2 separate regions of the Homo sapiens genome follow, and region 2 is linked to region 1. Evidence: fine-mapped expression QTL. Tissue or cell type: adrenal gland. Region 1 holds a variant in brackets; the other region holds the start of a gene. All regions are shown on one strand. Distances are from middle to middle.

What was found. PIP is the estimated chance that this variant, and not a neighbour inherited with it, causes the effect.
Region 2: GBE1 starts here. The variant in region 1 is fine-mapped to the expression of GBE1 in adrenal gland (GTEx, PIP 0.97).

The regions. Positions count from the first base shown.
Region 1 is chr3:81,539,508-81,544,507 of GRCh38, reverse strand. All of the region lies in intron 12 of GBE1 (1,4-alpha-glucan branching enzyme 1), which reads left to right. Among named protein-coding and RNA genes, the nearest start is that of GBE1, 220 kb to the left of the region's middle. The variant CG/G (reference allele first, on the strand shown) is at 3,049.
Region 2 is chr3:81,759,057-81,764,231 of GRCh38, reverse strand. It overlaps GBE1 (1,4-alpha-glucan branching enzyme 1), which reads left to right and starts at 2,587. Exons shown (of 16, transcript NM_000158.4): 1 at 2,587-2,857. The coding sequence starts at 2,715. RefSeq lists silencers at 2,359-2,458, 2,959-3,038 and enhancers at 2,114-2,722, 2,509-2,798, 3,139-3,308.

The DNA of each region.
Region 1 (5,000 bases):
TCATACCATGAATTCTGAATTCTCTTAGAAAGGGTCCCAAGCGATGGCTCAAAAAATGATTATCCTCTCTTCATTTTGAATCGAGGAACATTCTATCTATTACACTACTGATCATAATCATAATTTAATGAGCAGAACGATCATGCTTTGATGGTTAGTGCCAGATTACTTGTAATACGTATTTTGGACTCAGAACTATTGTTCTTAACTGTCACAGTCATTGCCTCTGTGCGCTACAGTTAGTTTAAATGTGACTTTTCTAAGCCTCTTATCTGTTGAATAAACCAGCCAAAGGTTTTAAAAATGCTTCCTTTAACTTAGCTTTCTACTTTTCTTTTTTATTTTGCTTAAAAGCCCTTACTTGTGACCCATTCTTCTAGTTGCTGGCATTCTAATATAGTGAATGGTTCTTTCACAAATACAGTTAATCTTTGGATGCCTGGAGAATCCAAAGAACACATTTCTCTCCTCTGAAAAATGCATGTGAACATACATACAACATTTTGCATGAAATATTAGAAAATCATTAGAAATGCATGAGCCCCAAGTTGTGAACACCTGTTGCATTCATTGAGGAACATATAAATGTATTATGTACATATGTGTACCTATCATATTCATATATAATTTAGGAATATACATATTGCTTAAATTCAAATGCTGATTCAGATCATATTGTTTGCATTCTGTCAAGTCATCTATGCTAAAATAAATCAATTATATTATTTGCCATCACCTGAATAAATTTAGATTTCTGATCCATTTTTATACACAGTAGCCCTTATACACAGCACCCTTACTTATAGGCTCATTTGGGTCACCATATTTCACTGTACTGTCTGAATTACTGCCATATATCCTAAGTAATTTGTAGCCCATAGCTGAGAAGGACATTCTTAACTTGTTTTAATGATAATATTTTTCTTCATTAGGTTTGTGAGCTTTGAGCTAGTGGAAGATACTAACAGGCATTTTCCAGTTTTCTCTCTCAGGCCTTAAGAATGGTTCACTATTATCCCAAGGTCACTTTGAAAGTCTTTCTGTGATTTGCTTCCATTTATTTTATGCTTGTGTTTATGGTTTTGAACCAAATATGAAATTTAATGTTGCGTTTGTCTACATTAAACTTAATTTGCCCCTTGTCAGCTCGTTTACAACAGAGAAAACATTCAGAGCCACCCTGTAGAATGTTTTGTCTACAATCACTGATACAATTTTTCTGTCTCTCTTTGTTGTATGCAACTTTCTATATTTTTCAGTCTAAAAAGAGGCCTCTCTGAAGGAACATTTTCAGAAAATCTAAATGTCTAATAGAGATTAATAAATGATTTTCTAATAAAATAGAATCATTACCGTATTTTGAATTTTTTAAATTAAAGTTCTATTTTCTAACTTAGAAATTTAATTTCATATTACATATTATATGAATATGCTTCTTGAGATGCTCTTAAAGTAGTGAATTTATACTTTAAAAAGATAAATGAAATAAAAGTTAAAATATAAACAAAATCTTAAATTGAGTTACATTACCAAATATTACCAAATATTTTGTGTGCTTTTTTCTTTTTCTCAGATTTTTCTAAGTACTGAAATTAACCTCATGTAATTAAATTTCTCCATTTAAAAATTAGTTACTTTTTAAAAATAATTTCAACTTTTATTTTAGATGCATGGGGTACATGGGCAGTTTGTTATGTGGATATATTGCATGACACTGAGGTTTGGGGTGTGAATGTCTGTCACCCAGGTGGTGAACATAGTACCCAATAGGTTGTTTTTCAGCCCTCCCTGCTTTCTCTCTCCTGCCTCTAGTAGTCCCCAGATGAATTTTTTCTTAATGCTTACTAATTTTTCAATACCATTATATGGTATTGAAATGACAAATATTTTAAATTGATGTATCTTAGAGGGCACTAAAATGAAACATTAAATATACATGATGAAAAATACTTTTAAAGTAGAATCCTAAACATATACATTAAGAAATATAATTTGTGTGTTGAAAATTATTTTCAGGAGAATCTACTAACTTGTGCCTGTATCTTCGAATCATGAGCAGTGTTCAAAACTTGGGAAATGTTTGATCCTAGAATATCTGCTGTTTACCTTTGAGCAGATATTATATTTATTCAGTTTATGTTAGGGAAATATCAGACAGGTGTACAAAGATACATATAAAAGACTGGTGATTTTTTATAACACAGAAATATTAGAAAAAGTCAAAATTACCAACTTAAGGTGATTGGTTAAATAAAATTTCATTACATGGTCCACAATGGAATACCATCATGGAGATGCATACCTATTGATATGCAAAATGCTCATTTTAAATTTCAAAATAATATATAATGCAAGTCTATCTTTGTTCAAAAACAAGTTGTAGGTAGTTGGTAGATAGGTATGAATGTATGTATAGGTATCAATATAGATATAGATATAAATATACAGATGTGGATATAGACAAAAATAAATACAATGTTTATCAAAAGAAAAACAGATTATTTTGTAACATCTGTGTGTGTAATTGTGATTTTTAAAAATATTTCTATGAGTGGATTACTTAATAAATTAATAAATAAAATAAAAATAAAACATTGTAATAGAAGTCAATATTTATTAAGCACATACTATGTATCGTATATGCTTCTAAATAATTTACATGCCTTACCTATTTAATTGTAATTATGCTACTCTTCAGTCCTTATTATCTTAGCCTGTTTGTCCTGCTATAACAAACCACCATAGACTGGGTGGCTTAAACAACAAAAACTATTTCTCATAGTCTGGATGCTGGGAAGTCCTAGATCGAGGCACTGGCAGATTTGATATCTGGTGATGCCCTATTTCCTGGTTCACAGATGGCTGTCTTCTCACTGTATCCTCCACAGCAGAAGAAACAAGGCAGCTCTCTGGGGCCTGTTTTATAACAACATTAATCCTGTTCATGAGGGCTCAACCCTCCTGAACTAATCACCTCCCAAAGCCCCATCACCTAAATACCACCACATTAAGAGTTAATATTTCAACATATGAATTTGGGCGAGGTGG[CG/G]GGGGGGGCAACTTGCAGCCCATCACCATTATTTATGCTGTAGATTATAAGCATGTGAATTTTTCACACTGGAATGTTAGAAATAAATGATAATAATGTAATTTCACATTTTTATGGAGTCCATGAACCCTCTGAGGCTGTATCGTGGGGTGGGTGTGTGTTTGTGTGTGTGTGTATGTGTTTTCCTGGGGAGCAGTTACTTAGCTTTTAATCAGATTGTGCGATGAGTTAATATCGTCCTCTGATAGTTTTAGTCAAACTCACCATTCATTTCTGTACTATTGAAAACTCCACTACAAAGTCAAGATACTAACAGCAAGCAAAACTATACAGTGAAAATGAATTTGTTGTTTTCACCTCATTAATCTACCCAAGGCAGTTGGTAAAGATAGCAAGCAGCAACAGCGTGACCTCAGGTCACATTTTCAAGCAGGCTAGGAAGAAATGGGAGTTGGGGAGGTCATCAGGTGCCAGGAGTGTTCTAGCCAGAGCAGAACTCTACTTTTAGATAGTGCCTAAAATGTTAATTTTAAGTGGTATATAATCAACTGTCAGTTAAACTACAAATAACCTTTGAGAGCTTATTCAGAGGCTTTGCAAGGTGAACATGTAGAATAGTGAGGCTTTCATGAGGGTGGATATAGGATTCCTAACATAGTAATCTGATTTACCCAATCAGTCTGTGTCTTGTAACAACATTATTTTCATTTTCAATTCTGTCTTTTAAGATCTAAAACAGTAGATGATTCAAAGCACATTAATACTTGGCTTTGGGATATATGTTTGTATTATTAAAATATGAATAAATGCATCTGTGCAGAACTTCAGCACTTTAAAGAAAGGAATAAGGCCATTCCATGAAAACCTGTATGAACAAGAGCCAAATAGCTAGCAACCCTTTGGATTCATCCTTGTTACCTGTATGGGCAGCTGGTTCTCTCCTCAGAATGATGATTTTACAGATGAGGAAACCAAGCACTAGAGAGATTAAATTGCCTATATTCACATCACTTATAAGTGGCATAGCTGTGATTTAAACCCAAGTCTTGCTAACTTGGAAATCTGTATCCATGGGCATCATGTTGTCTAACTGACTACTTTTAAAATATTATGGAGAAGTTGATAAACTGTAGATTCCAGCCTACTAATCACTCCAGAAGTAATGTATCCATATCATTGAGGGTAGGGGTGAACATTTTTAACAGCCTTCCTTGGTGATTCTGGAATGTAATATAGATTGAAAAGCATAGCTTTACACCATCTTATTTCTGCATCAGAGGGGAGATCATGTAGCAAGTTCTTATTTATGATTTTATTTTTCGGTAGCATTTAATGCTACTGACCACCATCCTTGGGACTTTTCTTAGCCTTCTATGTTTTCTTCTAATGTCCCCTTTACCCTGCTAACCATTGCTCTCAGTCTTCCCTAACATGGCTTCTTTCTGCCTTCAGTTCCTTGGTATGCTGGCCATGGCGTTTTTTCTCTGGTGGCTCTCATTATCTTTGCTTATTGAGGCTTTATAAATTACTCTTTCTCCCCACCTACAATTCTCTCTTGAGTTTCAGTACCTTATTTTTATCGTTCTTCTAAATCTACAGATGCTGATGTTTCCTTCGTGTCTTAAATTTAGCAGGCCTAAAATTGAACTCATTATCTTCTTACCCCAAACTTTCTGTCACCGTTTTCCTCTAGTGTAGTTAACACTGTCACTACTCAGCCTTCTGAACTCAAAACTTCAAAATTGCATTCCGACTTTCCTTTTCCTCACTGTCGCCATTCAGTCAGTCTGTCATCAAATCTTGTTATTTCCATCTCAGAAATGCCATTTGAATCGATCATTCTTTTCTGTGTTTCCACAGAATCTCATCATCTGTTATACATTGGATTCCATACCAGTTTTCCTATCATTCAACTTTCCCTGATATCCAGTCTTTTTTCCACATGGTACCA
Region 2 (5,175 bases), 220 kb before region 1:
CACCGGGTATGCTAGATTTTTTTTTTTTTTTAAAAGACCAATTCAATTCCTCCATTGCACGAACTCTGCCATTCTGGAATGCTCTTCCTCTCATGGCTCATTTCTTCTTGTCATCACACTTCAGCTTAAATGTCAGTTCTGAACGGCCTTTCTTGACGACCGGAACTAACACAGATATTTGCTCAGTTTTAATTCTCGACAATGCACTTACCACTATCTGACATTGTTTTGTATTATTTTATGTATTTCACTGGTAATTGTGTCTCCTCTCCCTCCTACCCCCAATAGAGTATGACAACTGGGACTTGTCTTATCATTTATCCACAGTACGTGGGAAAATGGCCGGCACATGGGACTTCAATAAATATGTGCTCAATGGTGAACCACCTAGGTAGGCAGATATGTACGCTAGGATCGTGCTCGTGGGGAGCTTAGGTTCTAAAGGGAAAGGTCAATAAATAGGAGAAAAACAAACACCTAGATTCTGTTAACTGTTGCATAGAAGAGATTGAAGTTATACAGAAGACACTGAGGAGTCTATAATCAGAAGTTTCTCAGGTATGAGGTGACATTTTTGCTGAGGCTGGAATGAAGGCTTGGAAAAAATTAAGCAAGTAGAGCTCAGCTCCCTGAAAATTTCCAACAGAGAGAACAGCAAGCAAATAATCTTAGAGGCTATTATACAACAAATTCACTGAGTTCCAGGAAAGTCAGTGTGACTAGAGCATAGTAAAACTGGAAAATGATGAGAAAAGTGGCTGGAAAGGTAGTCAGGGTCCAGATTATACAAGCCTTGTTAGAGAATGATAAGCTGTTTCTATTTTACCCTAAGTGAAATACTATGCTATTTAAGTTGCTAAATGACATCGTCTGATTTACTCAGTGTAGAGTCTCACCAAACTGTGTCCCCAACCACCAGCATCAGAATCACTTCTGAGCTTGTTAAAAATGCAATCTGAAGCACCACATCGGAACTCAATTAAGATCCCTAGGTGATTCATATGCACATTAAAGTGTGAGAAACACTGGTACAGAGAATGGAGTAGAGGTGAGAAAGAGTAGAAGAGGGGAAGTCAGTTAGAGAGCTACATTCTGGTCCAAGTGAAGGAAAACAGTGGCCTGCATAAGAGTGACAGCAGGAAGGATGAGAAGACGGATTCTAGGTCACGTTTTGCAGACAGTTTGTTTAGGTCTCCTAGCCAGCTAAATGGAAATCTCAGTAGACAGGCAGTGATACAAGCCTGGGTTTCTGAAAAAAGTTTAGGCTTGGAGATGTAGATCTGTGGGTCTGTTATTAATAGTTGTCCTGCTTCGGGTTTTTATTTTTTTTTAATTTTCTTCCTTTTTTAGTGCTTTATATTTTACAAATGTCTGCAGCAGTTTTTTGTCATCTTTATGGAAAACAAGGCACGTCTTAAAGTCGTTCAAGTCCTTCACTTTTTCACACTGAGGTCTGTCTTCATATCCACTTATCTTTCAAGTCTATGAAACCCCTTATAAAAACTTTCCTTTGAAATATTTTAAAATTCAAGGCCCACGGCTGATTAATACTGTTTCTCCTCCATAACCCCTAGGATCCTCCAGTTCTGGGTTTTAACAAGAAAAATATCCTCAATCCTCTCTAGTTTCTAGGTGTAAAGCAGCTTGGACCCTCCTGGGTTTGGTGGGTCCATCTCTCTTGGAGTCCAACTCTGTATTCCTAAAAAGCAATTATTGAAATAGAAGCTAGTCAGTTAATGGCAATAAAAGAAGGGAATTCCAAGTGGGAGCTTCCCAAGCCAAGAGGAAGAGAGGTTTCTTGCCTTATCACTGTAAGTGGCAGAGTGGAGTTCCAATTCAATGATATCATTTGTGTTATCAAAGGTAGTTTAATCGTTGAAAAGCTTGTTAACAATTATAAACACAGGCAAATGCCTTTTCCTTTTTGGCCTTACGGAGAATGAGAAAAGTTCTTCCCATGGCTAAAATTCTTAGCTGTTGGTAATGCAGAAAAGAGTACCAGAACAGCAGAATTCCAACGGTATTCCAGGATTCTGTGTCTTGGTTAATTTTAAATTCACGTGACCTGGCAAACTTAGGAGAGTCCTGGTTGTAAGAGGTATTAACATTTTCAGCAGTAGTACTCTAGCTACACTTGACTGTTCCCCTCTCTGTGAATTTACATGATATGTTTGAAATACTGCCCCTCAAAAGTCTCAGAACTTTGAGAAATACGGTCCTTTCCAAAAAAACCCCTTATGTCCAATTTGAAGGGGTCGCTGTCAGTGGGTGCTTAAGTGGGTAAAGAAAAGCCAAGAATATGTCAGGGTGAGGAAGGCCAAGGCTGAGCGAGGTCAGCTTGGGACCCACCTCCTAGAATGACCTCCGCCAGCAGGAAAAAACCGTTAAGGGGAGGAAAGGGCAGGTCCCTGCGGCCTCCAGGTGCCAGCCGCGTGAGTGGGCGGAGAGGCCTCGGTGCCTCCTACCCGCTCCGGACGTGCGTCCCGGCATCACCCCGGGATCCGCTCCTCCCCGCTGGCGGGGGGAGAAAGGGCAGGAGGCCTTCCGTCCCGGCTATAAAGGGCCCCGGACCGCCGCGGCTCGCCTCGGCTTGCCTCGACACGCCTAGGCGCCCTCCGGCTCCGCCCTAGCCGCCGCGTCCCAGCTAGAGCTCCAGCGCCCGCTCAGGCCCCACTCGACCTCTCGGGCCTCGGCTACTTGGACTGCGGCGGAATATGGCGGCTCCGATGACTCCCGCGGCTCGGCCCGAGGACTACGAGGCGGCGCTCAATGCCGCCCTGGCTGACGTGCCCGAACTGGCCAGACTCCTGGAGATCGACCCGTACTTGAAGCCCTACGCCGTGGACTTCCAGCGCAGGTACCGCCGGAATCCCACCACCCCCACTTAGACAGGCAGCCCGCCTCCCAGGAGCCGTCTCGGGACACGGGCCGCCCCTCGGCCCTCGCGCGCCAACCCCGCCCCAGGCGGGGAGGAACCTGAGTGGGCGGGGCTCGGGGTGACTCGGGTAACCGGGTTCTGTGGCTTCCGTAGTGGCAGGTTTGACAGCGCTGGTGCCCGGAGCGGGCGCTGAAGAAACTTCTTTCCTCATCCCCTTTCCCCTCTGTTCTAATCAGCGGTCTTGCGCCATAGGGTACGTGCTGTGGCTCCAACACTTATTCCCCAGAGTGCTGCTGGGGAGTGACTCACCGCCGCTGCAGGTTTTCTGACTTTGGCACCCACTAGCGTGGGCCTGTGGAGTAACGTGGGCATAACTCCTGGCACGTGTAATTACGCATTTAAAACTTTCTAGTTTATTTCATAGCAAATGTTGTGATTTTATATCTAAGAGGATTCCTTCAGGCAGACACTATATCCTTTTGTTTTTTCCTTGCTAATATTCCTCATTTAGGGGAAGATTACACCTACATTGATCAATTTTTTCTCCCCTTGGATCAACATTGAGAAGTTAAATGTACATCAACATTTGTCCGTGTGTGACTTTAACCATCTTGAAGAGGGAGAAAGGTCAGGAAAGCAACTTTTACAGGCCAATGTCGTTTTAGCTTGTCTTCTACCATTGTGTACCATACAACTTTAGTTACTGGGCTAATAATTCTATTCATAAGTTCCACTAAAAAGGTACAGGTCTTTTTCTGTTGTCGTTGTTGTTTGAAGTAAAAGAGCTATTATACAAGTTGTAATAGTTATACTTGTGAGGTTACCCCATTTTGATTTAATAGTTTCTCCCCTTTTAGGAGAGACACTGCAGAATGGAAACTATCCTGGCAACAGAATATACATGGCCAATTTTTCGAGTGATGGAAAACATCCAACTAGTTAACTGGCATGAAGGAGCGTTGAGAGTAATGAAAATGGGTTGATTTGGAGTTTGAAAAAAGCCCAGCAAATTGTTTGTGTCCTAGCATTTTCAGGTATTAAATGCATTCAAATCAGCAAGTGTTTATTGAGGAACTCCTATAAATAAAACACTGCTCTAGGGATTGTAAGGGATGTGAAGTTTCATTCTTGAGCTTGTATATAGTAGTGAATGAGGCCTCTGTAAAATAATCACCTTGAGCTGTCCCTCACTTAATCAGATGATTATGCTCTTATATAAACCATATGAGGAGCAGCCTTGTGAAATTGTTTTCAGAATTTACAGTATATGCTTTCAGAGAAACTTAGTGCATAATCGTCATAGGTTTAAGGTTGGATTTGATTTAGAAATAGTCAGAAAAAATTTAGAACAAAAGATAGTGATTAAAGGTAGTGGTTAGATTTTTTTTTTGATGTCCTTGTAACCATGACATTAATTTACCTGTGTGCTTTGTAAAAGGACACTTAAGATATTTATTAAAGAAGAGTTGTGGAAATGTTTTATCTACACCCCCTTCCTTTTTTTTTTAAATGACACAAACAGATTAACATTCTTTATTAAGTGTTTCTTTCATGTACTTTATTTCCAACTCCACTGGGATTGAAGCATTTATAATCTTCTTTCATGGTTTGCCAAAACTAATGAAGGGAACAAAGGCCAAGATAAAGAAGGGAAGAGAATCCAGTGTGCTTGGTGAAAAGTCTCGTCCAGTGGGCCCTCATGCCTCACTCTGACCCGGATTTTACTTTTGTCCTTGGTTCTGAGTAATGGCCATTTGCTAGCATACATGTTCCATTTAGGCATATCAAATAGTAATTTGGCATTTGTTAGTGGTAACTTCTATTGTTAACACTTGAAGAATAAAACATTTTTCCTTCATACAATCTGGTCTTAGTTCCTTGTCCAATTTTCCATTTATTTCTGATAATCCATTTGGACTGTGTGTCTTTGGCCTAACACAAATACATAACCAGTCAAACACTTAGGTGCAAAGTATGCTTACTAAGGAGTGAAGAAAATTTGAGGTACAAACAACAGTATATAATTAAGGTGATGAAGAAGGAAATTTCTCTTTGATGGACTGTCTCATCCTTCCCCAACAGATATCTTTTGATTTGAAATTTTTTGGATGTTCCCTTAGGATGTTTTGGATGTTCCTTCCCTTCTTTACCTTGGCCTTTTCCCCTTCTGTATTAGTCCGTTTTCATGCTGCTGATAAAGACATACCTGAGACTGGGCAATTTACAAAAGGAAGAGGTTTATTGGACTTACAGTTCCAAGTGGCTGAGGATGCCTCGCAATCATGGCAGAAGGTGAA